Regions from separate parts of the Homo sapiens genome. Here region 1 is linked to region 2. Evidence: fine-mapped expression QTL. A gene starts in region 2. The other region holds a variant in brackets. All regions are shown on one strand. Distances are between the middles of the regions. Region 1 has its middle 4.6 kb from the start of AURKC. Region 2 holds the start of ZNF264 (zinc finger protein 264).

Region 1 (2,797 bases), 35 kb before region 2:
TGGTGGATGCTGGCTTTTGCATGCATGAGGCCCTGGGCCATGCTATATGTTTGTTTTCTGCAAGGGTTGTAGACTGGATATTTATGGTTATTCATGTGGGTTCTGCATTCCTACCTCAATGACCCTTAACGAAAACTCTAGACGTCAAGGCTTGGGGGAGCTTCCCTGGCTGGCAATACTGTGAATGTGTTGCACACAACTTTGCTGGGAGAATTCAGTGTGCCCTTGTGCAACTGCACTGGGAGGGAACACCTGCTAAGTTTGTGCCTGTGCTGGACACAGTGGCTTCCACCCGTAATCCCAGCACTTTGGGAGGCCAAGGCGGGTGGATCACTTGAAGTCAGGAGTTCCAGACTGGCCTGGCCAACATGGTGTAACCCCATCTCTGCTAAAAACACAAAAATCAGCCAGTGTGGTGGCACATGCCTGTAATCCCAGCTACTTGGGAGGCTGAGGCAGAGGATCACCTGAACCTGGGAGGCAGAGGTTGCAGTGAGCCGAGATTGTGCCATTGCACTCCAGCCTGGGTGACACAGCGAGACTCCATCTCAAAAAAAAAAAAAAAAAAAAAGAAAAAGAAAAAAGAAAAAAAATTGTGCCTGGTTTCTCACAGATTTCCTCCTATGTGCCTTTTACCTTTGGTGATCTTGGTCTCTATCCTTTTGTGGTAATAAACTGTAACCATGAGTACAACAGCTTTTCTGAGTTGTGTGTGACTTTCTTTTCTGAATTTTGACTTTCAGGCAAATCATCGAGCCTGAGGTGGTACTGGGGAGAGAATGTCACATAACCTAAAATGTCAAAAATGATTAAGGCTCATTCACCTAACAAATATCTGAATACATACTATTGACTACAAACTATGCACATGGAACATTAGGAGAAAATCTAGATCAAGGTCTGTGCTTTTTCGAAGCTGGAAATTGAGTTCAGGATACGGTCATTATTCAATAACCAAACAAATCAATAGATAATCATGAAAGAATGGGTATGAGCTAGCTGGGTGCTCTAGTGGGCTTCTGTGAAGGTGTGCTCTCTGGGACAAAATGAAGGATACACATTTGCTAACTGGGCAAAGCAGGTGGTGGAAGCTCCATCTCGAGTGGGAAAAGGAAAGGGAAGCATGGAGTGAAAGGAGAGCAGTAAGACTTGTATGAGATGAGGGTTGGGGAAATACGTTTTAGGGTATGTTCACTAAAGTAGGTAGCTGAACCCAAGAGTGCAGATGAGGCCTGGGGAGAGACCAGTAAGAGAAAAAAGAGGCCTGGGACAAAGCCTTAGAAATTTCAACACCGGTCAGGCACGGTGGCTCATGCCTGTAAGCCCAGCCCTTTAGGAGGCCAAGGCAGGCGGATCACCTGAGGTCAGGAGTTAAAGACCAGCCTGGCCAACATGGTGAAACCCCGTCTCTACAAAAATACAAAAATTAGCCGGGCATAATGGCAGATGCCTGTAATGCCAGCTACTCAGGGGGCAGAGGCGGGAGAATCACTTGAACC[T/C]GGGAGGCGGAGGATGCAGTGAGCCGAGATCATGCCATTGCACTTCAGCCCGGAGACAGAGCAAGACTCTGTCTCAAAGAGAAAAAAAAAAGAAAAAAAATTCAACACCAAATGGCTGGATACACGTGGATGCACCAACATGAAAGGGGAAAAGGAGTGAGAGGGTGCAGGGGAGAAAACCAGAAGCATAACCTTACAGAATCCAAGAGTACATCTGGAGAAAGGACTGGACAACAACAGTTTCAAGTCCTGTCCATAGCCCAGAAAAGACAAGGACTTAGGATTCATAAACAGGGAGCCACTGCTGACCTTCACCAGAGTGGTAAAAAGCGTGGTGCTGTAGCCGGGGAGTTTACAAGGAGAGGGGAGTTGCGGGACGTGGAGAGAAATAACACAAGGAAGAGGTAATGGGAGCGTGACATGAGCCCCAAGAGGCTCCTCCATTAGAGGAAGAGAGTGAGGAAAAGACAAAGAACTCAAAGCTGGAGAAGCCCATACAGACATAGGGACATATGGAAGATCAGACTGGTGATGTCTGATACTCAAGAAGTGTGAGGATAATTCAGAAAGGGTTTGAAAATGACAAAAGAACATGCAGATGAAGACCAGGCACGGTGGCTCATGCCTGTAACCCCAGCACTTTGGGGGCCAGGGGAGGAGGACTGCTTGAGCCCAGGAGTTTGAAACCAGCCTGGGCAACACAGGGAGACCCCCATCTCTACAAAAAATTTAAAAATTAGCTGGGCATAGTGATGTGCACCTGTAGTCTCAGATACTTGGGAGGCTGAGCCTGCAGTGAGCCATGATCAGAAGACCCTATTTTTTTTTTGTTTTTTGTTTTTTGAGATGGAGTTTCACTCTTGTTGCCCAGGCTGGAGTGCAATGGCGCAATCTTGGTTCACCGCAGCCTCTACCTCCCGGGTTCAAGCATTTCTCCTGCCTCAGCCTCCCGAGTAGCTGGGATTACAGGCATGCACCACCACACTCAGCTAATTTTTTGTATTTTTAGTAGAGACGGGGTTTCTCCATGTTGGCAAGGCTGGTCTCAAACTCCTAATCTCAAGTGATCCACCTGCCTCGACCTCCCAAAGTGCTGGGATTACAGGTGTGAGCCACCGCGCCCAGCCTAAGATCCTATGTCAAACACACACACACACACACACACACACACAGCAAAAGAACATGCAGATGGAAAATAGGCTTGTAGGTGGCTGAAATGACATGTATGCCAAAAGTCAAGAAACTGAGATGAAAAAAGATTACTGTCACTGCTGAAGCCTAATTTCAAAGATCAAGAG
Region 2 (2,797 bases):
AATATGGTGAAACCCAGTCTCTACTAAAATACAAAAATCAGTCAGGTGTGGTAGTGCATGCCTGTAATCCCAACTACTCGGCAGGCTGGGGCAGGAGAATTGCTTGAACCTGGGAGGCAGAGACTGCAGTGAGCTGAGAGTGCACCACTGTACTCCAGCCTGGGCGACAGAGTGAGACCCTGTCTCAAAACAAAAAAAAGTATGTGAACACGGGCACAAAAAGCTCAGCATTCCTCACTGACCCCACAGAGCGGCACTGGAAGGGCTGCATCTACTTGGGGAACGACAGGCTCCAGACCAGCTTCCCATGCCCTCTGGGATCTCCCTGGGTCTCCCAGATCCCCCAAGGAAATTCCACAATGAACCAACCATCGGCCTCTTTCCTTACTGGGTTCCGACAGAACTTGTCTCTGACGCCAGGATACTTTGGGGCCACGGAACACGAGCGGCCAAGGATAATGCAGGCTGTAGCGATGAGAGTAAGGGCATCTGACTGGCCACAATGTCTGCAGTAGTTGCGGATGGCTAGAACATCCAGGAAAAGACCACACACTGTTGCCCTCCACGTCTCAGCGGCCGCAGGAAAACCATGGCAACCTTACACACCCTCCTGAGCCTCCTTAAACATACAACATACCTTGTCTCTGCTCGCGCATTTGTCGGCTTGCTACTGCCCTGCCCTCCCCTTCCCCCCTCAGGCCCCCAATTCATGCTGGAATGAGACCTGGTCCACCAGAGAATGCTTGCAGGCCAAGGATGATGGGAGTCCCCAGAGGAAGCATCATTCACTCAACAACCTACGGAGCTCCTTCCAGTAGGCCCAACACTCCTTACGGCCAGGTATAAATTAAGTGGCAAACCAGCTCCACACACCAAAGCGAACGACGACTGCGAAGACAAATCCAGGGGATACCTGGGCTCCCACCCACTTCGGAAACCGCCTCAGCGCTGGCAAGGAAGCGGCAACCGCGAAGCCACCGTCCACTCACCTGGGCCCGGTCCGTCAGCACCGCTGCCGCCATCACGTCACCCCCTGGGCCGCAGAGCTGGGACAGAGGAGCCCCGGGCGGCCTGACGGACCCCACCTGTGCCCGACCCTGGCCGGTTGCCCGGGGCTTCCAGGCGCGCTCGGGGCCGCCGCCTCCTCGGTGGCAACGGCGTTCCAGACGCAGGGCCGCCGCCTCCTCGGTGGCAACCGCGTTCCAGACCCAGGGCGCCGCCCCTGGAGACCGCGGGGCTGAAGGGCGGGGGAGGAGAGACCGCAGCTTGACGGCGACCCAGGAACAAACCCACGGAAGGGGTCAGGCTCGTACAAAGGTGCGGCGGGGATTCCTATCCTACTCCCCTGCTCGGTCCTGACTAGGGACCTGCAAAGCGGCCCCGACCGGGGCCCTCAGTGGCTACAGACCTCTCCAGACAGAAGTGCAGAAGAAAATGGCGTCCGCAGCGAGCAACCCGGAAGTCCCGCCCCCACCGGCGTGAGCCGTCGGAAACGTCCCCGTCCTAGGCCGTCGTTGGCCCAGCTCCCGCCGTACGCATAATGCACAGCCTTCTAAGTAGTGTAGTTTTCCTCATGTGTTCAACAACGGGAGGAACGCTTCACGGCGCAAGTTTTCCTCCCAGGGAAAGGCACTCCAGGACCCGAGGAGACGCTCCAGACCCACCTCTTTACGGTGGGCACAACTCGAGGGGAAGGATGGAGGGAGGGAACCGAGGGGCAAGGGTTACATTGCATTCTTCTCTCGGGAAAATCGGAGCTCGGGAGACAGGGACTTTCCTTCAGGTCAGGGCACAGGCAAAGGCGCAGAACTGGGTCCTCAGCTCGCCTGGCGACTGACCCCCTTTCACATCCCTCCTCCCCGGATCATCATCTTGGAAGACACAAAAAAGCCGAATGATCATCTGGAAGCCCTGCCCCGACACGTTGTGTGCGCAAACTGCCCTCTTTTGAGCCTTCTTTGGACCAGCACAGCCTCTACGTGATGCAGGGAGTCATGTATTTGGCCCAGACCACACAAAAAGTGGATTTGCCCACTTCTGAGGTGGGGAGGCTGCAAGTGGAGGAGGTTCGGAGGCTCAGGATGGTTAGTTTGAAATGTCTACAGAACCACAAAGTATCTCTGTCACAGGCAATTCGACTTACGACTGAATGTTGGAAGAAGGTTTGAGCATGAATATATGAATTTAGGAGTTACCTTACACTGTTATTTCAAGTCATGATATTGAGTGAGACCATCAAGGCAATGCATGTAGATGGAGAAGAAAATACACAGAGCATGAGCCGGGGACCAAGTCTACATCATTAAATGGTTGATGACAATATTACCAGAAAGGCCAGGTCCTTGCATCTAGATCCTGCTGCTTGCTGCACAGAAGGCCAGTCAGCAAGACAATGAGTATTGTCAGGGATGAAGGCTTTATTCGGTGCTGCAGCTGAGGAAAATGGGAGATCAATCTCAAATCTCTTTCCTCAACTGACTAAAACTAGGGGTTTATACATCAGGGAAGAAGTGTAACTATGTTTGAGAAAACAGGAATTAGGAAGGGGTAAGGAAGAGGAATGGGTCAACAGGCAGCAGATGGTCAGTTAGGCAATCATCATGGGTAAGGGGTATAGCATCTCGTTTTTCCAGATGTGGTAATCCAGTAAGTTTCAGTTTCTTTATACTATCTGGGAGGCCTGATGCTTGGTTTCCTGAGAAAGGAAATCAGATAAGACAAATAAAAGTGTCTCGAGTTTTAGGAAGGGGAGGCTCAATGTCTATAATGTGTTGATTCAAAAGAAACCATAAATATC

Evidence for each region. PIP is the estimated chance that this variant, and not a neighbour inherited with it, causes the effect. A credible set is the group of variants that fine-mapping cannot tell apart.
Region 1: its variant is the best candidate, but not a certain one, in a credible set for the expression of ZNF264 in whole blood (TOPMed, PIP 0.50).

Annotation. Positions count from the first base shown.
Region 1 is chr19:57,225,065-57,227,861 of GRCh38, reverse strand. No RefSeq gene overlaps it. Among named protein-coding and RNA genes, the nearest start is that of AURKC, 4.6 kb to the left of the region's middle. The variant T/C (reference allele first, on the strand shown) is at 1,500.
Region 2 is chr19:57,190,139-57,192,935 of GRCh38, reverse strand. It overlaps ZNF264 (zinc finger protein 264), which reads right to left and starts at 1,436. Exons shown (of 4, transcript NM_003417.5): 1 at 990-1,436. The coding sequence starts at 1,022. RefSeq lists a silencer at 921-1,190 and enhancers at 1,361-1,420, 1,431-1,520, 1,541-1,600.